Linked DNA regions of Homo sapiens: all the other regions are reported to be linked to region 1. Evidence: microRNA targets listed by miRTarBase, many of them from high-throughput screens and not tested one by one. Region 1 holds a microRNA gene; each other region holds the end of a gene's coding sequence. Distances are between the middles of the regions.

The links. The annotated mature microRNA hsa-miR-4500 reads UGAGGUAGUAGUUUCUU and lies in region 1 at 1,903-1,919, shown strand. An mRNA with a match to its seed (bases 2 to 7 or 8) in the 3' UTR can be bound and repressed. Matches are read on the target gene's strand: a 7mer-m8 pairs with bases 2 to 8, a 7mer-A1 pairs with bases 2 to 7 and ends in A, and an 8mer does both.
Region 2: the mRNA of NHLRC3 is a reported target of hsa-miR-4500. Seed matches in the 3' UTR shown: 8mer at 5,220-5,227.
Region 3: miRTarBase lists AKAP8 as a target of hsa-miR-4500. Seed matches in the 3' UTR shown: 7mer-A1 at 1,561-1,567.
Region 4: miRTarBase lists GOLGA4 as a target of hsa-miR-4500. Seed matches in the 3' UTR shown: 7mer-A1 at 6,678-6,684.

Annotation. Positions count from the first base shown.
Region 1 is chr13:87,613,464-87,620,589 of GRCh38, reverse strand. It overlaps MIR4500 (microRNA 4500), which reads left to right and starts at 1,850; the gene lies at 1,850-1,925. LOC124900338 (formin-like protein 5) reads left to right here. Exons shown (of 2, transcript XM_047430855.1): 2 at 4,835-6,323. All of the region lies in intron 1 of MIR4500HG (MIR4500 host gene), which reads left to right.
Region 2 is chr13:39,047,000-39,054,125 of GRCh38, reverse strand. NHLRC3 (NHL repeat containing 3) reads right to left here. Exons shown (of 7, transcript NM_001012754.4): 6 at 6,974-7,086; 7 at 4,017-6,452. The coding sequence ends at 6,200. It overlaps LOC105370169 (a long non-coding RNA gene), which reads right to left and starts at 1,054. Exons shown (of 5, transcript NR_187783.1): 1 at 798-1,054.
Region 3 is chr19:15,348,674-15,355,799 of GRCh38, reverse strand. It overlaps AKAP8 (A-kinase anchoring protein 8), which reads left to right. Exons shown (of 14, transcript NM_005858.4): 14 at 430-2,415. The coding sequence ends at 885. All of the region lies in intron 3 of LOC124904643 (a long non-coding RNA gene), which reads right to left. Among named protein-coding and RNA genes, the nearest start is that of BRD4, 20 kb to the right of the region's middle.
Region 4 is chr3:37,359,912-37,367,037 of GRCh38, forward strand. GOLGA4 (golgin A4) reads left to right here. Exons shown (of 24, transcript NM_002078.5): 23 at 1,332-1,394; 24 at 6,169-6,968. The coding sequence ends at 1,361. Among named protein-coding and RNA genes, the nearest start is that of APRG1, 18 kb to the right of the region's middle.

The sequences.
Region 1 (7,126 bases):
TTACTAGTAGGAAATTATCCTAAGGAAACAATCACTTACACACACACACACACACACTCACATACACACGCACACTCACATGCACACATCTATACCATAAAATTTTATTATGAAATTATTGTAAGTTTATAAAAATATTTACCAATAGAATAATATTAAGTAACTCATGGATTTTTTATTAAAACTAATTTTGGTATTTTTTAAAGGACTAAAGATATTTTGGTACAGATTTCAGGGAAAATAGGATGCTAGCCCTTGAGAACATGCCGATCTTGCTCCTTGGCTAACTACACCATTCACCTTACTTTGGCTAGGGAGGCATTTGCAGAGCTCTCCTTCTGACATTTTTGTCTAGAGGAGGCGTTGTTGTCTCCCTTACTCTCAGAAGCTTCACGTGTGTTAAGGAAACTTTTTAAGTGTCTTTCCTTTTTGAAATGAGCAAGTGGTAGGTATATAGATACTTTATTATTTTTATCTTATTTATTCAAATATTTTATTTTCCTTCTATTCTATCTTTTTTACGATAGGCATGGACATTCTATTACACATTTGGAAAAATACAGAGTGTAATACACTCTATACCCAAGTCTATATGCAAAAGCTGTTTCTATTTTTCTATATTTGCATCACTAGGTATATGTTCTTTTTAAAGTAAATTATAGATACATTGGTACTTCATTCTAAATACTTCAAGCATATATCTCCAAAAATTAATATTCTCAAATTTTGCTGCAGTGCTATTATTACAGCTAAAATAATTGAGACAAATCACATAATATTACAAAATACCCACAAATTCTATATTTGAGCATATTCAGATATTCTAAAAGTGTATTTATAGCTGATTTGCTCACACCTGGAGTCAATCAAGAATCACACATTGTATTTGGTTGTGTTGGTTCTTAAATCTCTATTAATCTACAATAGACCCAACTATATTTTTCTTTACTTTTATGACATAGAAAGTCTATTGCCAGTGGTTGTCCATTTTCAGATTTGTAATATAGAATTGGTTTGTTTTCATTCTCTGAAGCATATTATATCATTACATTACACAACAACTTCCTGACTTTATTCAATAAGTACATACTGAATTATGAGTGTATGTCAGCCAGAGAACGTATAGCTATGACAGAAAAAAAAAAGAAAGATCTGTCTTTCTTTTTGCTCTAAATATTTTTTTCTCTTTCCTTTAGGATGCAACTGACTCACTTAAAATAGCTGTGTGGATATAGAACTTTTATCAACTACTATTTACTAAATTATATTGGTGTGTTTGTCCTCATCTTAGAATAGCATATCAATAGATGCTATAAAAACATAAGAGGTACGTTTGTAAAACATTGAATTCGGTTCCAAATATCTCAAAATTCTTCCCTAAAGAACACTTTTTGATCGAGATTAAGACATAGGAATCTAAGTTCATCAACCAAAGATGGGTGCCTGACTGCTCATCAACTAATTTTATATGACTCAAAGAATAGGAATTCAGAAGATCTGTGTCCAGCTTTGTCATGGGTAAATAAGGAAGGCACCCATAAATCTTATATAAGTCGTAGGAAGAAGTGTGGTTCTTTGCAGTGAACCATTTCCTGGAAGACACAAGACTGGGGGGATTTTTTAACCTTTGCTGTTTTCCAGGAGTACAGGTTTCTGGTAAAATTCAACATTGTCAGGAGCAGCCAGAGTGATAAGATAACTTATACACAAGACAATCCCTAATAACTTATACACAAGATGATCCCTAATGCAAATGGCGCCTGTGTCTGGAAGAAGCAGTGACACCTTCATAAAACTAAACTTTTGCCTTAATAATATGGTGCTTTCCAGTAGAGGCAATAGCAGAGCCCAGGAGAGAAAGTACTGCCCAGAAGCTAAAGTGTAGATCAAACGCATAATGGCTGAGGTAGTAGTTTCTTGAACTTATTTGTGAGCACATGCAAAAAGTCTCCTGAGTTAAAAACCACAACCACAACAACAACAATGACAACAACAACAACAACAGGGAGGACATTTGCAAAAGTACAGAGTCTCTGCAAGCTTCTGAAAACAAGAGCCAGTAAAAAATGTGATGTAGTAATGTTATTACCACACATGTGAATTCGTTTTTACGTAGTTTTGATGACTTGTGGAAGTTTAGGTTACAGTCACATAGAAAAGTATTTACCCCTTACCTGAAGCACCCTGAGTTTGAGATCAAGAAAAAAAAGATACTAAATGTTTCATCTTGGCATGGCTTGAGGCATAATAGTAAGATAGATATAATAGTATCCATTAATGGCAGAATTCCATCATTTTATAGATATGACTGTCTATGTTATGGTATGTTTTGTAATAAACATGTTTTGTTTTAGAAAAGGAAAATGTCAGAAATATTTGAGATGTCTGAAAGAGTGAAGTTTTCCTAGTGCTGTGAGGAGATTACTAAGAAAAAATGGCATGTACTAATTTTATTTGATTAAAATAAGAACTCAATAATAGACGACAAGCTTCAGGCTAGTTTTAGGAACAATAGTTCTTTCTTTGTCTTTGTTTTGTTTAGTTTTGAAGACAGGGTCTCACTCTGTTGCCCAGGCTACAGTGCAGTGGCACAATCGTGGCTCACTGCAGCCCAGCCTTGGCCTCCTAAGCTCAAGTGATCCTCCCAACACAGCCTCCCATGTTGCTGGGACTACAGGCACACATCACTACTCCTGACTGATTTTTTTTCTTTTTTTAATGTTTGTAAAGACAGGGTTTCACCATTTTGCCCAGGCTGATCTAAAACTCCTGAGCTCAAGTGATCCTTCTGCCTCAGCCTCCTAAAATGGTGGGATTATGAATAAGAGTCACCATGCCCAGATGAGACTTAACTTTCTAAGTAAATTAGACATAATTAACAATCAGTAATATAAACATTTTAAGCCTCCATTTGTAACCAGGTCCTTTCAGCATTTTGACAGAAGTTCTGTATCTTCCACTTCAATACTTAAATTTACTTTTCCTCAGGCACCTGCATTCAACATTAATTTTAAAAAGATCCTGTCAAGTACTACTCTTGAGCTTTTGTTTAATTATTCTTATTACAATACCTCCAGAAACTACCATGAAGGAATTTACATAATTGATATTCATACATTGAAAATAAAATAGAGACTTTGCTGAAGTAATTTCTACTGTCTACTGAAAATAGAGTTTTCAGCTATATTACAAGATAAATTAAATTGTGTTGTAAAGGTCTGGGTGCAAAACTATAATTTTACCATTTTTTTTCTGGAAAATATGGGTTCGAGTTTCTAATTCATAAACTTAAATTGTTCTGTGGTGAAATTAAAAAGTTTCTTGAAAAGTACTTGTATGAAAACTAGTTTTTCTCCGTGTCTACTATGTAGTGTTTCTCAAACTTGCTACTATGGATGCGAGAAGGTTTTTGAAAGTATTGCTTTTTTACGTTCCACAAGTTCTCTACTAAAATTTTTATTTTAGTTTTATCTTTCTATTTTGATAATAATTTCACAATAACCTTATATAAGCATATTCTTTATCAGATACAATACAGATCGGTTATTTCAGTGCCATGGCTGCCTTTGGGTTTATGATATTTTTGGCTCCGAGTTGTATGATGAGAAGTTAATGAACAAATGAGATAGAGAAGCTACATATGTAATACATTTGTCCCAAGTGAAGCCCAAATTACACGCCGATGACACTATAGAAACAAAAGTTTGGTAGCATTTTAATGTGAGTAAAATGAGAAATCAAGTAATTTCATGGCTTAGGGTTGACTAGGCCTGTGAAACTCAACAGAAAACTTTATCACAACAATCATATCATATTTTAATTGAGGTTGGAAATTTACTGTTAACAACACATGTTCTATTATCTCAAATTTATGTTGTTAATTTTAATTTTATGGGTTTATAATTTGCTTGTGCTTAGCTTATAAATTCTCTTTGGCTTTATAGTTATAAATTCAAAGAATCAATTAGAGTTCATCCCAAGATTTATGTTTTTAAGTATTTAATTAATATCATAATGTAATTTAAGTTGATACTTGGATCAGCTGGAATTCTTTTTCATGTCAAAAATGTCCATAAGTTCATCAAGTTGGAGATATATGTTCATTGAATCATATATCTTTTTTTCCCTTTTACAAGTGCAAGATAAAGGAAGAAAAGAAAAATATCTATTAAATTAGAATAATTATTTCCAAGTATGTAGTTCAAACTACTTGTTTAACATTATGTCATTCTTTCAATCAGCACATTTTTAGGAGCTCCTGTTATCCTAATATTATTTACCTCTCAATAAATTTATTAGAACTTGAGAACAGAAAACAACAACAACAACAAAAAACACATACACTGAAGAAAAAAAGAAAATATTATTTTAAGGCCAAATATGCTAGTGCATCAAATAAGTAAGTAATTTCTTCTCAAACAGGAATTATATACTACTCTTGGAAATTTTTTCAATGAAGACATCACCACAGAGAAATGAATTTATGAGTTTCAATTATTTCATTTGTTACCATGACAACACTATAGACAGTTTCCCTTTTCTGTTTTTTTTTTAATTTTTTAACATAATATTTATTCAACCTGCAATGTTTATTAAATCAAGTATTTTGCCATGTGATGGAGGTATCAAATGGAACATGCCATCACTATTCTAAAGGATTTTGCTCTTTGGGGACCGGGGAGAATCTTATATTAAGTATCAGGGCTTGAATTGATTATATCAAATTCTCCTAAAATTGGTTAAATTGTTAAATCTCTGCTCATTATTTTCAATTATTTAATAATTTGTGGTGTTTCAGAATTTTTTATATGTATTTATTTTTACTTCGTTTTAGGGTGTGGTTAAGAGAAAAAAAAATTGCCATTAAGGAATCAGCAAATAGGATGTCTGAAGTGAGGATATAGCACCTATCTCTGAGATTAAAGTCATCTGATCAAAAATGATGCCTCTGAGACTATAACAAAGGAATGAATAATGAAATATAAGAATGGGGATTCTGCACTAACTCTATGGGGAAGAAAACAATGGTAAGAGCAAAAGGATCAACAGCAGCAACTCCTGTTTCCATCGATTTGTTTATAAGATGCCGTCTACATTATTCCAAAATATCCCAGCCTTTTTCTCCCCTGTCAAGCTTCCCTGTCTCTAAAAGAGATCTTGCTCTTCCTGCACAGAAAGAAATAATAATATATCACTGAAATATTATTATTACATTTAAAGTTACTTACACTCTTTCCCATTCCTATAATTTCCTAGTTGGAAGCCCTCGCACTTGGGAAATTATTTAATGTGATTTTTTCTCCCTGACATATAAATTGTCACATCACCTTAAATGTTGGGACTTCAGGTTGGGAAGTGGGTGGATAATATTCTTGAGGAAGCTGCCTTCCTTTTATAGATAATGTTACCTCCTTGTAAAGGTTGCTTTCTATGTATTATTCTACTTTTTTTCTAAGAATATACCATATAATGAAAACTTTACAGGCTTGACATCCTATTACTAAGATTATAATTGTTGAGGTCTTCAATAGAATTTCAAGTCAAATATGTTGTGCTATATGCCTACTTACATTTCACTCTTTGATTCACCTAGTTAGGATCTCAGAATTGAACTTTAATTGCAGATTTATTACTTCTTTACTCTCTTCATGTATTAATTTAAAATTTACTTTTTCCTACCTTCATCTTGGTTTGAGAAGGTTATTTCCCTTTCATTTGATTTATTTGTTTTAATTTACATGTGCATATTTATTACCTGTATATAAGCAAAATTTATAGAAGAGGATAGTATGAGTTAATAAATAAGTATATTATCAGGATATTTTCTTTATATTTAATATATGTTGTAATTAAAATGCACTGTTTAGCTGAACTGTGCCTCCTGGAAACTGTAGCATTTAAAGACAGCACTATGTGAAATATAAAATTATGTTTTTTTTCTCTGTGTCTATGATTTATTGAAGTAATGTTCTTCAGGAAAATTTTTTTAATTTTCAAATTTATAATTGACATAATAATTGTACATATTTATAGGGTACAATGTGATGTTTCAATGCATGTCGATAATATAACGATCAAATTGGAATAATTACCATATCTATCACTTTAAACATTTGTCATTTTTATGTGACAGGTGACAGCATTTAAAATATTCTGTTCTAGCTATCTTGAAATATACAGCAAATTGTAGTTTGCTGTAATCATCCTTCTGAAATTAATTTTTTCTGAGTTTAGATTTTCAGAACACCAAACTGGTAACCAAATTATTAATCAAATTGACAGAAAATTTTATTCTTGTTAATAAAAATACCAATTTATATTTACATTTGTAACTGCTATGTCTATTGTGAGCTGTAATCCCTTTATAGAGGTAAATATGCAAATAAAATAAGCAAATGGTGAAAAAGCAGCCTTTCAGGCTGACTACTTTCTAAATAGATCTAAACTTCAATCCAAATAAGAAAATGCAATATTGAAATTTTAAGGATGCTAAGTCATTTTGTGGGGGTAAAGGATTAATATTAAATTTCAGGAGTTAGATTAGGACAGTGACTAAAATGAATAAGATTAGGAATTCAAGATTTTTTCTTAAATGTATTGAGCTGTGATGACCCATGTCAATTAAAATTTTCCAGGTTACGTGACAAACACTATAACCTTTACAACATAAATTGTGGAGATTTGTATTTTGAATAAGGTTCAACTAAGTAGAAATGATAACCTCCATAATGTTATTTACTACTCCTGGAAATTTTTTTTGATAAAAAATAAAAATGTTATCGTAATTACAGTAGTGAGTCATATGTAATGCCTCAATGGCAATTTTAGTTTATTGTCCCCCAAAATAACATTACTATTCTACATAGCTAAGTTTATTGGTTTCAGCATGACATAAATAGGCCTACGTTTGAAAAATAATTTAACCTCTCTTATTGAGGTTATCCTTTCTATTTACTTGAACCTTATTCATCTTTCTAGGCATTATCATATAGTGAAAAATACTGAAATATACAGATAAATATTAATTATAAATATCACAGCCACCAATTACTGAGCCATCACCATGTGTCAGACATGTTAAGGATGTATCACACGTCATTTCCAACACTCTTAACAGCACGCAGTG
Region 2 (7,126 bases), 49 Mb from region 1:
CTCCAACTAGAATATAAATTGCAGAAGGTGGGAGTCTTTACCTTGATCATAAATTACTTGTTGGATAAACAGCATTAATGCCAACTAAAAATAGCCATGTTTTTTAAAATGGCATTTCTAAATGATAGATGCTTTAGTATATTACAGCCTTACCTTTAATTTTCAATACTGTGACTAAACACAGAATTATATAATAGGGAAGTTCATGTGGTCTCACCATTCTCCCAAACCCTGCCCAAAGGTGGTAGCATGACTGCCATTGTCTGATTGAAACACCACACGTGAATCTCTTAAGGTTTGTTGAGTGCTTATTGCATGTCAGAGACAGGGCTTAATGCTTTACATGCATGATCTTATTTGTATTCACAATAATTCCATAAGGAAAATACTAGTATTCCCATTTCACAAATGAGCAAAAAAATGAGGCATAGCTCAAAACAATACAAATTAGTTGCAGGGCGTGGATTAGAACGTAGGTCAACCTAACTCTGGATTCCAAGCTGTGAAACACCAAGCTTTACCACATCCACTGCTACAGCCCATTCCACTGCTAGAGGAGGGTTCTTTTATTGGGCTGATCCAATGGACCACTCTATTATTTGTACTCATTGTCTTAGTTCTGGAGGAAAGTGCAGAATTCTATTCACTCTACTACATGATCACCCTCTGAGACTTCAGAATTATTTCCAAACACTGTTATTTTGGTTACCTGCTTGTATTAGTCAGGGTTGTCTACAGAGACAGGATGAATAGGATAGATGGATATATGAAAGGGAGTTTAAGGAGTACTGACTCACATGATCCACAAGGTAAAGTCCCATAACAGGCCACCTGCAAGCTGCGGAGCAAGAAAGCCAGTCCGAGTTCCAAAACCTCAAAAGTAGGGAAGCTGAAAGTGCAGCCTTCAGTCTGTGGCAGAAGGTCTGAGAGCCCCTGGCAAACCACTGGTGTAAGTCCAAACGTCCAAAAGCTAAAGAACTTGCAGTCCAATGTTCAAGGGCAGGAAGCATCCAGCATGGGAGAAAGATGAAGACCAGAAGACTCAGCCAGTCTCATCCTTCCACGTTCCTCTGCTTGCTTTTATTCTAGCCACGCTGGCAGCTGATTAGATGGTGCCCACTCAGATTGAGGGTGGGGCTGCCTCTCACAGTCCATTGATTCAAATGTTAATCTCCTTCGGCAACCCTCTCACAGACACACCCAGGAACAATACTTTGCATCCTTCAATCCAACCAAGCTGACACTCAATATTAACCATCACACTGCTTTTGGGTTAAACAGTTTATAGGATGCCCCCTTAAAATGTAGTAGCCAAAGGAAACAACACCACGGAGCTATTTACTAGATATATAGACTATCTTGTCGATTAAACTGCCATTAAATCTACACTTCAATGTTGTCTAAGATTGCAACATTTTTCTTAACAAGGCTTGTAATATTTTTGGCCAACAAACTTTCCAAAACTTTTTCAAATAATTTGTTGCCAAACCAGGTGTCCTCCGATGAGGACTTAACGTTTAGCCATGTTGTTTCAACTGTCTTGATCCAGTTCTTCTGACCTAGTTGGGCATAATGCCCTTTAGATGCACATTTATATTTACACATATGCACACAGACTGCACAAACGTAACCCCCATACGCTCCACACAAAACTGAATACATTTACCTCAATTAATGTTGATTAAAAACAAACGTACATATAGTTAGTTCCTTCATCCCTTTAGTTAAGTAAAAATAAGTATTTCAGTTCAATACAGGAAGCATCAAAATATTTAAATACTTCTTTATACACACTGTGAAGAAAAATGTTATAAAAACATTTAACTGGTGATTGTGACAATTTGTATATAAATGTCGTATTGTAAAAAAAAATTTCTAACACATATTACAGTAACTAATTCTCACTAGGAACAAATCTGAGAATCTGCACCATGCAACTAAAATTTTCTTCCTTTGATAAAGCGGCTGAAAATTGAGAAGCAAGTTTATAATATCAATTTGTTGTGACTCACGCAAATTAATCTATTAAATTAATTTAAATTAAAATTAATTTATTTAAATGTAACTCATGTAGGACATGCTTGTTTTAATGTTACAGTGAGTTTTTTATTTATGAATTACATAGAAGCAGAATTAAGTCATATTACTTCATTGTTTACAATGGAAAAAATAAGTTTTAAGTAGTGTTATTTTTCATTGCTCAAATTCTATTCAATTCTTATACACCAAAGGAGCATCTACATGTCATTTAGCGTTTAGAGGATTAATTTATAAACTCATGGATTCCAGAGTAGCTGATGAAGAAATGACCTAAGAGTCTTTATAAAAAACTTATTTTTCTTATTTGTAAAGTAGCAACCACAAGGTGAAATTGTTTTTTTTTTTTATACAACAGCAACAACGACAACAAAAAACAACTACTAGGGAGAAAAAAGAATGATTCCCCACTAATACAAATTCATTCTCTATTGTACTAAACTCACACATTCAGATTATAGTTTCACCTTCATTTAAAATAAGTTAATTCACTTCTGGCTGTTAGTCTGAATTACTGAAAAGGTTTAAACTTTTTTTTTAATTGTGGACAAGTCCAATTAACCAGTAAAAAATTTCCAACAATGCTTGGAAAATGTTTCACCCATAAAGCAATTTCCTTAAGATGTAAGCAAGTGGCAGAAAAAAGAAAAACAATGAAAGTATGGTGAACACTGTAGCTTCAATTAAAAAAAAAAACAACCAAAGTATGAAGTTTAGCCCATGTTTGATTTCAAGAAATGCTTATAAGCAGAACGCTACTGACCTCTTGTGTATCAAGAATGTAACATAACACAAGTGCCAAAAATGGTATCTCCTAAAACTACTAAAAGACAAGGTTTAAGTAGCTTGTTTTCCCAACCAGGTAGGGAACTATTAGAGCAGAGGACACTTGACTGAGTGCTTTTATATGTTTGTTGTCTCAAAACTTTTTACTGAATCAATAAAGATGATTATTTTGATTTTTTATTGTTGCTGAAAATATATAGCAGAGAATACAACAAATTAAAGTAATAAATTTAGGACTTTTAAAAACTCTCATTTATTTTGGTAAGCCTAAAAAGCAAAAATTTGAGTTTCCATTTTAATGCTGACTATCCAATCTGTCCTGTTTTCAAATGCAAAAGTGCTTAAAAACAGCAAAGGCAAAACAAAATAGGACTTTATTGCCGTAGCCTTACACTACATTGCTTGAAGCAGTCTTTTAATCTGTTAAGTGACCTAAGAACAAAGTCCTAGCACTTTGGGAGGCGGAGGCGGGCGTATCACGAGGTCAGGAGATCAAGACCATCCTGGCTAACACGGTGAAACCCCATTTCCGCTAAAAATACAAAAAAAAAAAAATTAGCCGGGTGTGGTGACGGGCGCCTGTAGTCCCAGCTACTCGGGAGGCTGAGGCAGGAGAATGGCATGAACCCGGGAGGCGGGGCTTGCAGTGAGCCGAGATGGCGCCACTGCACTCCAGCCTGGTCGACCGAGCGAGCGAGACTCCTGCGCTCCAGCCTGGGCGACCAAGCGAGACTCTGTCTCAAAAAAAAAAAAAAAAAAAAAAATTCGTGGTAAATCTCTGTTCACCATCAGATTTCATCCAAGTTTTCTCTGATCGATAAATATTCCACTTGAAAGACCCAATCTGATGGTACAGGTAGGGAAAGATAGAGCTAAATCTATAGCCTTTGGTTTTCTAATTTAGAACACTTTCTCCCCTCCCCACTCCAAGAATAGACCTAAAAAGTAGAAGTATAAAGATGTTCCACTTTTAATGCAGAAATGTAGACAATTAGCTAGTTATTACTGTCAGTTGTACCCTCCCACCACCTCAAAACAAGCTACATTCTTTAAATGTTCTAAGCAACTTCTAGTCATATTTATGCACATCAGCTTACACGCTATATGTGTGAAAAGTGGGATATTCTTTCAGCATCAACTTGTGATTTCATAATTGCTGAAATTCTTTAAAGGAATAAAAAGTTATAGACTGCTTTTGTGACAATAAAATCAAACTTTAATTGGGGAGCCAGATAATATTGCCTTTTCTTTCCAAAATTTTAATTTATACTTTTTAGTAAAAAACATAACACATTTCTCATTCATTTAACCAATTAATCCAAAGGAAAAAAGTGAAGTACTATAATCACAGGTACACTAACAAACACTTTTACAAAGACATTCAGAAATATTTGCAGCAGGTTTTATAAGACTCTGATATAAAACAAAGTAAAATAAAACGTTTTGAAATGGCAAAATCGGTTTACCTAGCCTGAATTGCTTCAAAGAGGCATTTGCACTTCTTGTCCTGGCTTAATAAAACAAAGTAAAATAAAACATTTTGAAATTTCAAAATCAGTTTAGCCTAAATTGCTTCAAAGAGGCATTTGCACTTCTTGTCCTGGCTTAAAAACAAACCCTGAAATTACTTTCTTTTATCCAAATCAATTGACCATATTAATCTGCATAAAGTCTATGAGGATACGTTTTGATAAATGCTATAAACACAAAATTAAGGCAAATCTGATAGTTATTGTCAAATAAATAGCACATTTAGAAGGGCCTTTGTTAATAAAATGCCTCTAATGTATCCAGAGGTATAGATTTCAAAGGGCAAGTCTGTACCTGTTGCACATCTGATTCTCACAGCATTCATGAAAGAGGAGACAATGATATTCCCATTTCACTGAAAACTAAGGTGACTTGTTTAAGGTCATACAGTCCGATCAGTGGCACCAACACATTTACCAATGGCCTTGGAATACAGAGTACAGGGCTTCCTGTTGGTAGATTTACCTTCCTAACCTCACGGAGATGTGATCCAAGTATCAAAACAAGTGTGAGTCCCTTCAGGTCTGGAAAATACTCCAGCCATAACAGGTGAAGAGGAAAGTCAGCTCAAGATTTGTCATATGCTACACAATTTACAGTAAAACACTGGGAAAAGCAGGAAGCTGATGTGAGGAAGGGTGAAGAATGATTTGAAAGATTACAAAATGGCAAAGTTCCTCCAAAACCTATAATAAGCTAAAACAAACTGGAAAAAAAAAAAAAAAGGTCTTAATTGGGAAGCCAATATTCACACCAAAGGAGGGAGTGGGAGGAGAAGATGTAGGAGGAAAGCAGGAAATTATCATCTTAACAGCTCAAAGGATTTGGCACATATCCATGTTATCTAAATAATCTTGAAATTTCTTTGAGGTAGACAAATGTTAGGAATAAGTTGAGTTCATGTAAAACAAAAGAAAGAAAAAGAAAAAAAAAGAGAAGGAAGCTCTACAATCCTTAGTTATTTGTAAAAACCTCTTTTACTAAAGTGCTTAGATGCCAGCCATTTTATTCCTACATTTAAAGGCTGACTGACATTAAATATCTTATAGGTAATGGACAGAAGCCAAGTTGGGCTTTAAAAAAGGCCTAAAAGCCTATCAAAGTTTACAGTACACTTCTAACTTTTTATACCTTCTTTACTTGGAAATTATTGTTTTCTCCTCCTTGTCCCTTGGTAAGCTCCTCCTCAGTTTTCAAGTCTGAGCTCAAATTCACTTCTCCTGCGAAGTATCCATGATTCCCTCAGTCAAATGCAGCACTCCTACTCCAAAAGTCCCACTATGCTCCAAGGTCGCTTTTGCTGTGTTGTGACTGTTTGCCTGCTTGTCTCCCCACTAGACTGCAAGCTACTCAAAAGGCAATCCTGCTTTTTCATTTTTAAGTCGTCAAGACACAGCACTCTGTGGGTACTCAAATTAATCAATAGTTCATCTTATTTACAATCTCTCAAGCAGCTCATTTTATGTTAGTTGCACAATCTGGAGGTCTGGAGTTCTTCACATGAAATTTAATAAATTATCATGCAAGCTCATTTTTATTCCCATTTTTTTTACCCAGGGAGAATCAGTCTACCAGGGCAAATAATGAGGTTACCACCTTAGTCCCTCTTCCCAACCCCATTTTTTAGTTACTTTCCTTTCATTAAAATATCCTTATGCACTTACAAATAAAACTAAGTCCCAAGAGGGCAACAAAATATAAGATTCTTAATGATACAAAAACAAATCTTTCTGATACTAGATCTTTTATACTAGAAAAATAAATTCTTGTGCTTGAACATCATTTTTAAGCACTTAGTGAATTGAGAATCTGAACTGCCACTTGAAATATTCCCAGGAAAGAAACATTATGAACCAAATGAAGGAACATAGCTATTCAAAGGGACATATTTTTGTACTTGTTTTGCTCCAATTTCTGCTACATAGACTGCTCCAGTCTTTCTGTCGACTTCTAGGAGATGTGGCAAAACTTGATCTGCTAGTTGGATTGTGCTGATCACAGAACACTCCCCAATGCTTCCCACTGGGGGTGCTGCTACGACTGAGAGCCTGCTAAGATTCAGCTGGGCCACAATCAAGTACTTCCCATCAGGAGTAAACCTAAGGAGAAAGACATTTAACATAATAAATGTCTGTGAAAAAACATAAGGGTATTTTTTTTCAACATTTTAATCCCCTACTGTGCCAAACAACAGTAGGCACCTACTTGCTGAATGATTCTTTTAAGAAGAATTTTAATTTGATCTAATTCTGTTTATGAAGGAATAAGATGTCCATGATGGTAAGCAAAGCCAAAGATTAGCTTAAATTTGTTAAAAGTATCAATATCATAGTCCACAAAATGAAATTAATGAAGAATTGATGTTAGGCTGGGTTTGATTTTTGTCCTGTTTAAACATTTACCAAATAAAGGCTAGAGGAGAGGTCTAGCATATGTTATTTCTTGTTTTCACTTTACCTGGCATCTGAAAATCTTGGATATCAAATTTCTCTGTATATTTCTATTTTCCCCTAATTCAAAATTAACAATAAATATTTTAAACTTTCAGCTAGCTATTCAGAGGAAGTGAGACACATACACTAACTAAAACAAGCATTTTGCAATAAAATGAAACAATTACCTGACTGAAGAAGGTCCCTCTTCTGTGAAACAATTATTCCATGCTCCTAACCACTCCCCAGTGTCTTTATCAAATACTTGGATTCTTTTATTTCCTCGGTCAGCAACCCACACCTGAGAAACACACAAAAATGTCAATTGAAAAATATCCATG
Region 3 (7,126 bases), not on the chromosome of region 1:
GCGCCATTGCACTCCATCCTGGGCAACAAAGCAAAACTCCGTCTCAAAAAAAAAAAAATTGCAGAATGGGCCGGGCATGGTGGTTCACACCTGTAATCGCAGCGCTTTGGGAGGCTGAGGTGGGTGGAAACCCCATCTCTACTAAAAACACAGGAGGCGGAGGTTGCAGTGAGCCGAGATCGCACCACTGCAGTCCAGCCTGGGCAACAGCGAGACTCCATCTCAAAAAAAAAAAAAATTGCAGAATATCTCCCCGAGGTGTTTTCTGAATCTGTAGGCTCTGAGAACATGTAGGATTCACTCCTGTGGCATAATTTACAGAAGTGTTTCCCTTGTGGACTGCTGGTTCTGAAAAGCTGACATCCCCGCAATCATGGGCCTCCTGAGCTCTGCTTACACCACGCTGACCGGTGTTTCCTCTTTGGCCAGGGTGAGGACCCTTTCACCAGTGAAACTGTTGATCCAGAAATGGAAGGAGATGACAATTTAGGAGGTGAGGATAAGAAAGAGACACCTGAGGAGGTGGCCGCGGACGTCTTAGCAGAGGTGATTACAGCAGCAGTGAGGGCCGTAGATGGGGAAGGAGCGCCCGCTCCAGAGAGCAGCGGGGAGCCGGCTGAGGACGAAGGCCCCACGGACACAGCGGAGGCCGGTAGTGATCCTCAAGCCGAACAGCTGCTGGAAGAGCAGGTGCCCTGTGGAACGGCACATGAGAAGGGCGTCCCCAAGGCCAGAAGTGAGGCTGCAGAGGCTGGAAATGGCGCCGAGACAATGGCAGCAGAGGCAGAAAGTGCCCAAACCAGAGTTGCTCCTGCCCCAGCTGCCGCGGATGCTGAAGTGGAACAAACTGATGCAGAGTCTAAAGACGCTGTTCCCACAGAATGATGCTCATTTCCCTGTTCCAGGGAAGGCGTTGGGATGATGGATGCGTTGGTCTTTCTCCCTTGGTTTGTAAGCAGTACAAGGGCGTGTGCTCCCAGAATATGCTGTAATCTAATTTTGGTGAAGAGACCCAGCGTTTCCTCCTGAGCAGTGCCTCTCACGGCTTGTCTCATGCAGTCGTGTGGCTTCTTGCCCAGGTTTCAAAGCTGAAGTACATTGTCCTTAGCGGCTGTAACATGTCTCTTGACAGTAGTGCACTTGGAATAATAAAGGTTGGGTGATTATATCTTGATGATACATTACTTGTTCAATACAGCCACTGATGGAATGCTTCCTTTTTTATTTTTTTCCTTAATTTTTTTTTTTATTTGGTTGGGAACAGCTGAATACTAGGAATATATCTTGCTCTATAGAGGATTTTTTTTTGTATGTTTCAAGCTTCAGCCTTTAACCTATACCTTTGTAGTGCACCATATGGTGTGTGACTTTCACAGGACTTCGCAGCACCTGGTTCACATGTGGCACTGACCGCGTCACATCCACGCACTCCCAAAGGCCAGAAGTATCTGACCGACCTACGCCACTGGAAACACACCCACCGCAACCTCAAGAACCAGACTGTGCAGAGGGCATTGCGTCCCAATCTTTAGTCCTTGCTGAATCAGTTCTCTAATATTTTACCTCATTTGTGTTCCACCTCTAGATTACTTCAGGTTTTTTTCCTTTAAAATTAGTTACTACCACTCAAATGTATTTACAAAGAGAATTTGGCCAGGCACGGTGATGCATACCTATAATCCCAGCACTTCGGGAGGCCGTGGTGAGAGGATAGCTTAAGCCCAGGAGTTCAAGACCAACCTGGACAACATAGCAAGACCCCATCTCTTAAAAAAAAAGGAAAGAAAACTTGATGTGATTGCCATAGGTGGAATAATCCAACATAAATTGCCATAGATAGAAGGTATCTGTAATATATATATATATATATAAAATGAAATATATGTTTCATTTTAGAGAAATAACTATTACTTTAGATCTTTCCAAATCTGAGAAAGGGAGGCTAGCATGTGTTCAAGGTTAGCACGCAACAGAATTTCCTAAAATCAGAAGAATTGGAAGATCCTCCCCTTTTGAAATGGCCCTGCTGTGTCAGTTTCCCTGTGGCCTTTTGAACTGTACATCTCACATGTTGGGAAACGCTGGCCACTGGGAAATCATTAGAAAGGAGGCTGTAGAATATTTGCCGAGCCTCTACTGTATACCAGGGGCTAACTCACCAAGCACATTCTAGGAATTGGGCCCTGCTCATGAGGAGCCTTAGTGGAGATTCCAGGTGAATATTTATGAAAAAGTCAACATTAGAACTGAAAATGGAAATAAACTGCTTGAAAAGACGATGGTGCCTCTGGGTCATTTCTGCTCAGCATCCGTTTGTGTTGTGTAGATGCGTCTTAATCGCAGGGTGAGCATGCCTTTTAAGCTTGTTCTCTTAAGGCAAAAATGTCGGTAGCATTAAACAGTAGTGCAGAAAAACATCACTAGTGGAACTGCTTTATTTCCTTAATTTTCTTTTTTTTTTCTTTTTTTTTTTTTTTTTGAGACAGTCTTACTCTGTTGCCCAGGCTGGAGTGCAGTGGCGTGATCTTGGCTTACTGCAACCTCTGCCTCCCAGGATTACAGGCATGAGCTACTGCACCTGGCTCTCCCCTACCCCACACCTTTTTTTTCTTCTTATAAAAATCCAAGACCCGGCCAGGCATGGTGGCTCACACCTGTATTCCTGGCACTTTAGGAGACCAACGCAGGTGGATCAGTAGAGGTCGGGAGTTCAAGACCAGCCTGGCCAACATGGCAAAACCCTGTCTATACCAAAAATACAAAAATTAGCTGGGTGTGGTGGCACACACCTGTAATCCCAGCTGCTGGGGAAGCTGAGGCAGAAGAATCGCTTGAACCAGGGAGGCAGAGGCTGCAGTGAGTCGAGGTTGCGCTACTGCACTCCAGCCTGGGCAACAGAGCAAGAATTTGTCTCAAAAAAATAAAATATCAGGCCAGGTGTGGTGGCTCATGCCTGTAATCCCAGGACTTTGGGAGGCCAAGGCGGGCAGATCACAAGGTCAGGAGATCGAGAGCATCTTGGCCAACGTGGTGAAACCCCATCTCTACTAAAAATACACAATTAGCCAGGCGTGGTGGCAGGTGCCTGTAGTCCCAGCTACTCTGGAGGCTGAGGCAGGAAAATCACTTGAACTCTGGAGGCAGAGGTTGCAGTGAGCTGATACTGCATCACTGCACTCCAGCCTGAGCGACGAGCAAAATTTCGTTTCAAAATATGTATATGTCAATCCAAGACCTGTCATTAAATTGGTCTGAATGTCAGTGAGGCTCTTCCACCTTCCACCTCTTGGTGAAACTACATAATTCTGTTGTTGTTGTTGTTGGTTTTACAGGCAGGATCTCACTGTTGCCCAGGCTGGAGTGCGGTGGCACCACAGCAGCTCACTGCGGCCTCCAAATCCTGGTTTCAAGTGATCCTCCCACTTCAGCCTCTTGATTAGCTGGGACTACAGGAGTGCACCACTATGCCCAGCTAATTTTTAAAAGCCTTGTAGCCAGGCATGGTGGCTCATGCCTGTAGTCCCAGCACTTTGGGAGGCCAAGGCAGGTGGATGGTCTGAGGTCAGGAGTTCAAGACCAGCCTGGCCAGCATGGTGAAACCCCGTCTCTACTAAAAATATAAAAATTAGCTAGGCATGGTGGCAGATGCCTGTAATCCCAGCTACTCGGGAAGCTGAGGCAGGAGAATCGCTTGAACCTGGGAGGTGGAGGTTGAAGTGAGCTGAGATCACGCCACTGCACTCCAGCCTGAGCCAACAGAGCGAGATTCCATCTGGAAAAAAAAGTCTTGTAAGCCGGGCGTTGTGGCTCATGCCTGTAATCCCAGCACTTTGGGAGGCTGAGGCGGGTGGATCACCTGATGTCAGGAGTTAGAGACCAGCCTAGCCAACATGGTGAAACCCCGTCTCTACTAAAAATACAAAAAATTAGCCAGGTGTGGTGGCAGGTGCCTGTAATCCCAGCTACTCAGAAGGCTGAGGCAGGAGAATTTCTTGAACCCAGGAGGCGGAGGTTGCAGTGAGCCGAGGTCATGCCATTGCACTCCATCCTGGGCAACAAGAGTGAGACTCCATCTCAAAAAAAAAAAATTACTTCTATGTTTTATTCCAATAATTTAATAATGTTAGCTCATATTTAGGTCTGTAGTTCATTTTAATTTTTGTTTGTTTTGTTTTGTTTTGTTTTGAGACGGAGTCTGGCTCTGTCGCCCAGGCTGGAGTGCAGTGGCGCGATCTCAGCTCACTGCAAGCTCAGCCTCCCGGGTTCACACCATTCTCCTGCCTCAGCCTCCCGAGTAGCTGGGACTACTGGCGCCCGCCACCACGCCCAGCTAATTTTTTTGTATTTTTTAGTAGAGACGGAGTTTCGCCTTGTTAGCCAGGATGGTCTTGATCTCCTGACCTCGTGATCCGCCTGCCTCGGCCTCCCCAAAGTGCTGGGATTACAAGCGTGAGCCACCGCGCCCGGCCAATTTTTTTTTTTTTTTTTTTTTTTTGAGATGGAATCTCATTCTCTTGTCCAGGCTGGAGTGCAGTGGCGCAGTCTCAGCTCACTGCAGCCTCTGCCTCCTCAGTTCAAGTGATTCTCACGCCTTAGCCTCCCGAGTAGCTGGGATTACAAAATTGTGCCACCACGCCTGGCTACTTTTTGTATTTTTAGTAGAGACAGGGTTTCATCATGTTGGCCAAGTTGGTCTCGAACTCCTGATGTCAAGTGATCCTCCTGCCTCGGCCTTCCAAAGTGCTGGGATTATAGGCGTGAGCCACTGCCTCTGGCCAAGTTAATTTTTATATACGTGTAAGGTAAGGGTCCAACTTCACTCCATGTGGCTTATCGCGTTGTCTCAACAGTATTTGTTGAAGAGACTGTTCTTTCCCCCAATGAATGGTCTTGATACCCTTGTCAAAAGTTAGTTGACCATATAACTACATGGTTTACTTCTGGACTGTCAGCTCTATTCTATTCTACGTATCTATCCTTATGTCACTGTGCTTTGAAGTAAGATTTAAAGTCAGGCAGCGGTTCATGCCCATAATCCCAACACTTTGGGAGGCTGAGGCAGGCAGATCAGGTAAGGCCAGGAGTTAGAGACCAGCCTGGCCAACATGGTGAAACTTCATCTCTACTAAAAATATAAAAATCACCTGGACAGGCCAGGAGCGGTAGCTCACGCCTGTAATCCCATTTACTTTGGGAGGGCGAGATGGGTGGATCACCTGAGGTCAGGAGTTCGAGACCAGCCTGGCCAACATGGTGAAACCCTGTCTCTACTAAAAATACAAAAAATTAGCTGGGCATGTGGTGCGCACCTGTAATCGCAGCTACTCTAGAGGCTGAAGCAGGAGAATCGCTTGGACCCAGGAGGGAGGCAGAGGTTGCAGTGAGCCGAGATCATGCCATTGCACTCCAGCCTGGGCAACAAGAGTGAAACTCTGTCTCAACAACAACAACAAAAAAAATTAGCTGGACATGGTGACATGCACCTGTAATCCCAGCTACTTGGGAGGCTGAGGTGGGAGGATCGTTTGAGCCTAGGAGGTGGAGGGTGCAGTGAGCTGATACCGTGCCACCTGTAATCCACCCAGCCTGGGCAACAAAGTGACGACACTCTGCCTCAAAAATTAAATTAAAATAATAAATAACTCAAAGTCGGCCAGGCACAGTGGCTCATGCCAGTAATCCCAGCACTTTGCGAGGCCGAGGCAGGTGGATCACCTGAGCTCAGGAGTTGGGGACCAGCATGGGCAACATGGTGAAACCTCTTCTCTACCAAAAATACAAAAAATTAGCTGGGCATGGTGGTGGGCACCTGAAGTTCCAGTTAGTGGAGACACTGAGGTGAGAGTATCACCTGAGCCTGGGAGGTAGAGGTTGCAGTGAACTGAGATCATGCCACTGCACTCTAGCCTGAGTGACAGAGACTGTGTTCAAGAAAAATAAATAGGCTGGGCATGGTGGCTCACGCCTGTAATCCCAGCACTTTGGGAGGCCAAGGCGGGTGGATCATGAGATCAGGAGTTCAAGACCTGCCTGGCCAAGATGGTGACACCCCGTCTCTACTAAAAATACAAAAAAATTAGCTGGGCATGGTGGTAGGCACCTGTAATCCCAGTTATTTGGGAGGCTGAGGCAGAGAATTGCTTGAACTGGGAGGCAGAGGTTCCAGTGAGCTGAGATCGTGCCACTGCACTTTAGCCTGGGTGACAGAGCCAGACTCCATCTCAAATAAATAAATAAATAAAATAGATGAATAAATACAAGCTCAGGTGCAGTGGCTCACGCCTGTAATCCCAACACTTTGAGAGGTCAAGGCAGGTGGATCCCCTGAGGTCAGGAGTTTGAGATCAGCCTGGCCAACACCCAACATGGCGAAACCCTATCTCTACTAAAAATATAAAAATTAGCCAGGTGTGGTGGCGCATGCATATAATCCCGGCTACTTGGGAGGCTGAGGCAGAACAATCACTTGAACCTGGGAGGCGGAGGTTGTACTGAGCTGAGCTTGCACCACTGCACTCCAGCCTGGGCGACAGAGTGAGACTCCATCTCAATAACAATAAAAACATGAATAAATAAAATAAATAAGGAACTGTGACTCCTCCGACTTTGTTCCTCTTTTTCAAGATTGTTTTGGTTATTCTGTGTCCCTGTTTTTTGTTTTTTGTTTTTTTTGAGACGGAGTCTCTCTCTGTTGCCCAAGCTGGAGTGCAGTGACGTGATCTCGGCTCACTGCAAGCTCCGCCTCCCAGGTTCACGCCATTCTCCTTCCTCAGTCTCCCGAATAGCTGGGACTACAGGTGCCTGCCACCACACCCCACTAATTTTTTGTATTTTTAGTAGAGACGGGGTTTCACTGTGTTAGTGAGGATGGTCTCGATCTCCTGGCCTCGTGGTCCACCCGCCTTGGCCTCCCAAAGTGCTTGGATTACAGGTGTGAGCCACCGCACCAGGCCTTTTTTTTTTTTTTTTTTGAGACAGAGTCTCGCTCTGTCAACAATGCGGAGTGCAGTGGCGCGATCTCAGCTCACTGCAACCTCCACCTCCCACGTTCAAGCGATTCCCCTGCCTCAACCCCCAGAGTAGCTGGGATTACAGGCACGTGCTACCACAACCAGCTAATTTTTGT
Region 4 (7,126 bases), not on the chromosome of region 1:
TTTGTTTTCTTGAGATTGGTTTTGATTCTGGTGTTGGTAGAATAAGGTAATACGTGATCACTGGAAAAAATATTATAAGCCAGAAACATAGAAAGGGAGTCCCTCATGATCTTCAGCCTCCAGACTACTTCTGCTATGCCAGTATCATCTCTGTGAACAGTTTGGGGAATATCTCCATGTTTTCTAAGCCATGTAATTACATATTTATAGTTACTCCTTTATCATTCATTTTATTTTATAAAAATGAGAGTATGCAATGGCTTGCTTTTTTCACTTAATATATTTTTATATTATTCCACCTTATTACAAATTGGTCTCATTCTTTTCAATGGCTGATTGTATGATTATATGGATGTCCTACAGTTTAGTTCACCAGTTTCCTCCTCATTCCATTTACTTATGTTTTCAAGATTTTCAGTACTTTACAAGCATAGACATAGGGAACATCCATATACATGGATTTTGTATACTTCTGCCAGAGAGGATATTAACCTCATTGTGTTGTGTGTGTTGCACATATTATTTTCTAGCTTGTCTTTTGGTTTTGCTGCTTTTTACTAACTTTAAATATGAAAGATAAATAAAATGATGTTTCTGAGGTTGGCCACACTATCCAAGAATAGACTCAGATTTTATAAGCAATCTTTGTTTTTAATGCTGCCATTTTAAATCACCGTGAAGGTAATTAATGATTTTGGACAATGACCATCTTAAAATGGGGCATAGAATTTATTTAAGGTTTGTCACAGTAAAAACTATATTTGAGATTGAGTTTCCTTAAATTGAAATTTCAGTTTGGGTCACCATTCCTGAAACCATTTCTGATACATTGTTGAATTACAAGAGAGTTATTCAGTGATCAAATTGACACATTAGGAATGAGAATTCAACATATAGACACATGGCTCTTCAAATTCATCATCATTTTCCCGAAAACTTTTTAGGGTAAATTGAGATTATGTAAATCAAATTTTAATGTGTACTTTCATGGAATTATGAAAGAGATCCTTTTGTAAAGCAAATAATTGCCCCGTAATTCAGCTGGTAAATATGTACTTAAAATATGCAGTACACCTTTCATTACGTTGTTTAAGTCTTCAAATGAAAGTTGCAAGTAAAATCTCAGCTACATAATATTATATTTACCTAGGATATGGGGGGAGGTATTACAGATTCCTTATTCCTTGCCTGTACACCCTTGATTTGGGGAGATTTGAGAAAAATTTAAGTACAGTCTGTAATCCTATGAACTTCATATACACATACAATCTATGTGTTATATTAAGTCTTAAAACTAACCCAATAAGCTTTTTTTCTTCCTGGCTTTGTAGTTTACTTCACCTCGCAGTGGTATCTTCTGAGTAAACCATCAGTCTGTGCTTAGTTAACATGTGGTGAGTGAAGAACAATGTCTTGTGTCTTTTGTGCAAAAATCAAATGTGTTGCCTGATACTAACCATTTTGCTGGAATTCTTTTGCTCTTGTTTAATAAATATATGATTATGCTATGGGTTAATATAAGTATTTTCTGTTCATTCTGTTATATGGATCGATAATAGTTAAAAATTACTACCACCAGTAAGAGTTATATAATTTTAGGAAATTTCATTTCTTTAAAGAGTAATTGAAAGTTTGAAAATTGCTCTTTGAAATTTTGTTAAAGAATCCAAAAAAGTATTTATGTAACTTATTTTCCCTTTTGTTTTTAATTTTCCAAGAATGATCTTTGAAATTATGATTGTGAGAGAGAAATGAAAAATCATTTTCTAGATAAAAATGAAGTGGTATATTCCGTGAGAATTCAAAATCCTGTAAAGCCTGAGTCAAGGCCAGTCAGAAATAATGAAAACTAGTAAGATCAATTTTAAAATATAGCTTCATTACTTCCTGAAATCAGACAGTTTAACACAAGACAACACATTTGTCCTGAGGAGACCGTTAGGCAGCCTACTTTAATTGAATGTGATTCTTCCTGATTAACATATTACAGTGAAATGCAGGCATATGAAATGTTTCAACGCAGTTGACTGTCTTCATCATTTAAACCCTCTCCCCTCATCTCTATGTATTTTTCATGCTATTAGGTTGATTTAGCACCCTCTGAAAATGTACCATACATCTTTACCTCAGCCTTTGCTAGAATTTTCACAAAATCAAAAACAGATCACAATTAGTAGGGCTTCACTATAATTAAAATAAATACTCTCAGTGATTGTTAATATCCAGCTAATAATAGTATCAAGGTTTAAAATGGCAAGATACAACATTTCTCCGTTCTTTTAAGCTTTTATTTATTTATTTATTTATTTATTTATTTATTTATTTATTATTTTTTTTTTTTTTGAGACGGAGTCTCGCTCTGTCGCCCAGGCTGGAGTGCAGTGGCGGGATCTCGGCTCACTGCAAGCTCCGCCTCCCGGGTTCACGCCATTCTCCTGCCTCAGCCTCCCAAGTAGCTGGGACTACAGGCGCCCGCCACTACGCCCGGCTAATTTTTTGTATTTTTTTTTAGTAGAGACGGGGTTTCACCGTTTTAGCCAGGATGGTCTCGATCTCCTGACCTCGTGATCCGCCCGCCTCGGCCTCCCAAAGTGCTGGGATTACAGGCGTGAGCCGCGCCCGGCCTTATTTATTTTTTTTTAAAAAATAAGTAAAGCCTTTATCACCCTGGCTGGAGGGCAGTAGTGTGATCATAGTTCATTCCTGTGTCAGCTCCTGGGCTCAAGGGATCCTCCCACCTCAGCCTCCCAAATAACTGGGACTCTAAGGCACCTATTTTTTTATTTTATTTTATTTTGTAGTGATGGTCTTGCATAGGCTGGTCTCGAACTCCTGGGCTCAAGCGATCTTCCTACCTCAGCCTCTAAGCTTTTTTTTTTTTTTTTTTTTGAGACGGAGTCTCGCTCTGTCACCCAGGCTAGAGTGCAGTGGCGTGTTTTTGGCTCACTGCAAGCCCCGCCTCCTGGGTTCACACCATTCTCCTCCCTCAGCCTCCTGAGTAGCTGGGACTACAGGTACCCGCCACCATGCCCAGCTAATTTTTTGTATTTTTAGTAGAGACAGGGTTTCACCGTGTTATTCAGGATAGTCTCGATCTCCTGACCTCATGATCTGCCCACCTTGGCCTCCCAAAGTGCTGGGATTACAGGCGTGAGCCACTGTGCCTGGCCCTCTAAGCTTTTATCTTTAAAAATCTTCTGTGCCTTCATTTGAGCCTCCTTTTGATTTTAATATATATTATTTGATTTGCCTTAGCGATTATCCAGAACTGTCTTATTTTTGTCATCCACATTACAATGGCTGGCAGTACAATGCATGGTTTTATTAGGTTACTTTGATAATAAATGTGAACATTGAAAAACTGTAAATTCTATAGCTAACCCATTAAGTCTTAATGTTTTCCTTTTAAAATAATACTGCATTGTACTTGTTATTATTGCAGCTGAATATCAATTATCACTGGAAATGTATATTGTGCAGCATTTCTATTAATTGATTAATTGATTGTCTCCTCAACTTTTAGTTTGAAACATTTCAGACATAAGATTTGCAAAAATAGTACAATGAACACCCATATACCCTTCACCTAGTAATGTTTGGCCAGATTTTCTGACTTGCTGTCACTCTTGTTCTCTCTCCATTTATATTATTCCCCATTTGTAACATTTGGCAATTACTTGCCGACATGCTTGCAAGCATTTGACAATTGTAAACATAAACTAAGTACTTTAGCATGTATCTTTAAGAACAAGGACATTTTTCTACATACAGTACAGTTATTACACTCAGGAAGTTTAATATTAGCTAATACTAATATATAGTACATAATACTCAGTTTTTTACAGTTTTCCAAATAATGTCTCCCATAATTTTTTAGAATCCAGGATCCACTTGAGATTTCACATTGCATTTAGTGGTCATATTTTCCTAGTCTTTTTTAAACTAGAAAACGTCTAGCTTTTTTGTTTTTAATGATGCAGCATTGTTGAACTGATCTTGAATTTTGTTTCCCACAACAGATCAAGCTACGGTTTCAAAATAAAAACTGACAAGGAATTTACGTATAACAGAAGATCTTGTTGGTGTCTTCTTTAGGTTCCTAGGACCAACATGATTATTGAACTAGTTTTATAAATAATATACTATTAGTAGTACATTATGAGTAGTGAAATATTTGTTCATTTACAAATTCAGAAGACTAAAACTCCCCCTATCCACTTAATATATATGGAAAGTTTGCCTCTATTAATCTTACTTGGTAATTTATTTTTATGGGATTTTAAACTCATATCTTGATGTGACTACTGGTTTTAGCATTTTCTTTTCCTTTTCTTTTTTTTATATTTGAGACGGAGTTTCACTCTTGTTGCCCAGGCTAGAGTGCAGTGGCGCAATCTCGGCTCACTGCAACCTCCACCTCCCAGGCTCAAGTGATTCTCCTGCCTCAGCCTCCTGAGTAGCTGGGGTTACAGGTGCCCGCCACCACACCCAGCTTATTTTTTGTATTTTTAGTAGAGACCGGGTTTCACCATGTTGGCCAGGCTGGTCTCGAACTCCTGACCTCAGGTGATCCACCTGCCTTGGCCTCCCATAGTGCTGGGATTACAGGCGTGAGCCACTGCTCCTGGCCAGCATTTTCATTTGAGAAACATTATGAGGAAGACTTTGGCTATGTCATAGCTTTTTTTTTTTTTTTTGCCCCCCAGCATGGTCACACCAGCCTAGAGTGCAGTGGCGTGAACACAGTTCACTGCAGCCTTGACCTCCTGGGCTCAAGGAATCCTCCCGCCTCAGCCTTCTGAGTAGCTGGGACCACAGACACATGCCACCACACCTAGCTATTTTTTTTAAAAAAAAGTTTGTAGATACAGGGTCTTGCCATGTTGCCCAGGCTGGTCTTGAACTCCTGGGCTCAAGCAGTCCTCTGACCCTGGTCTCCCAAAAGTGCTGGGATTATAGGCATAAGCCACCATGCCCAGCCAGCATTTCTAATTAATTTATTTTTTGAGACAAGGTGTCACTGTCGCCAAGCCTGGAGTGCAGTGGTACAGTCAGCTCACTGCAGCCTTGACTTCCCAGGCTCAAGCGATCCTCCTGCCTCAACCTCCTGAGTAGCTGGGACTACAGACACACACCATCATGCCTGTCTAATTTTTTCTATTTTTTGTAGCAATGGGATCTCACTATGTTGCCCAGGCTGTTTTTAATTTTTAAATTAAATTTCTTAATTCCAGATGAGACATAAATTTCCACACCAAAATGCTGTTTGTCTTTTGCTATTATGTCATGCTGGGAGAATTGCAATTTGTAGAATAATCAGCACACTGGATAAGAGGAAAGAGCTCTTTCTCATCTTTATTTTTTATTGTTTTTTTGAGGCAGTCTCTCACTCTGTTGCCCAGGCTGGAGAGCGATGGCATGATCTCGGCTTACTGCAACCTCCGCCTCCTGAGTTCAAGTGATTTCTCCTGCCTCAGCCTCCCGAGTAGCTGGGGTTACAAGCACCACCACGGCCGGCTAATTTTTTTGTATTTTTAGTAGAGACAGGGTTTTGCCATGTTGGCCAGGCTGGTCTCAAACTCCTGGCCTCAAGTGATCTTTCCACCTTGGCCTTCCAAAGTGCTAGGATTATAGGCATGAGCCACTGGGTCCAGCCTGTCATCTTTAATTCCAGTCCAATATTTGTGAGATTCAGCCAAGTCAGCGTGTTTACTCCTGGGTTACTGTATAAACTGGTAGCATTCGATATATGGTAAATGGTTGCAGTTCCAAATTTCACTTAGAAATGCCATTTTCCAGGATTGCTGACTATAGGTTGGTTTGCATCATTGCAAGAATGTTAATTTTTAGAAGATACCTTTAAGATTTAGTGTTTAGACAATTTCTACTTTTTTTTTTTTTTTTCAGAATGGGGTCTTGCTGTGTTGACCAGGCTGGTCTCGAACTCCTGGCCTCAAGTGATTCTCCCATCTTGGCCTCTCAAAGTGCTGGGATTACAGTCATGAGCTACCACACCCAGCCTTATTTCTGCCTCTTTACTGCAGTCTCTAGACCATGGAATAGAATTTTATTTCAAACTTGAAAAAACAAATATCCCAAAAAGTCAACCTAAATGTTTTGGATTTTTTTGCCCCCTTTCTTTATTCTCTTTTCCTTTTTCTTTTCCAGTCATGGCTCCGATCTTCATCTTGAAGAAGAGTGACATTGGGTGACTGCTGCTTGGAAAACTGTCCACACTTGCTACTCTTTGAGAATGAAGTTGTCATTCAGGGCCCCTCATGTAGCCAAAAGACCAAGAAAAATCTGGCCCACAGATAAGTTGCAGACTGCCTTTAAAATAGATTTTATCAGTGGAGAAATGGTGATAGTTTTTTCTTCAGTTTTCTCTTGGGAAGAGTTTTATGTTGTTTAAAAGATATTTTGATAACTTAACCTGCTTTATGGGCTTACATAATATTCCTTTCATCCATTCTTTTTAAAGAACGGCTTACCTTTCCTATTTATTTTTAGGGTGATTTTTTAAAAAGACTTGTGCAATACATTTTGAGGTGAAACTTAGTGGATTTTTTCTGATAAATTAGAGCATTTAATTGACTATTTTATTCAGGTTGATCTGTTGAATATTTGCTAAAGACCAGTTCTTTAAGCTAAGACATGTAAAAAATCCCAAATGGCAGTACCTCATTGTTTACTTAGCTTTTGTACTTATATTTTTCAGAGGAAAAAACACTACTGTAAATTGTGAATAGCCAATACATAACTGTATTGTATGCAAATCTGTGATTGTTGGCAGTGTCATCTCTGAGAAACAGATAAATAAAGTTTATTTACTATATAACATTTGTTTATTGTACTTGTTCCTCAGTTGAAATCTATTTTAAAATGTTTAAGAATGCATATTCTATTTGGATGAATTTAGTGAGGAATTATTTGTCAATATAACTAAATGCTGAGCATTTGAAAAGAATTTTCACGTTCAAATTTGGTATGACCAAGTTAGAAGGAGCATGGAAATAAATACTCCATGATGTCTGCTTTAGGATTCTGACAACTTGGGAATGCCTCCTCTCTCTGGAATAGACCATACTTGAATTATTTTTTAACTTGGTGAAAGAGAAATTTCTGC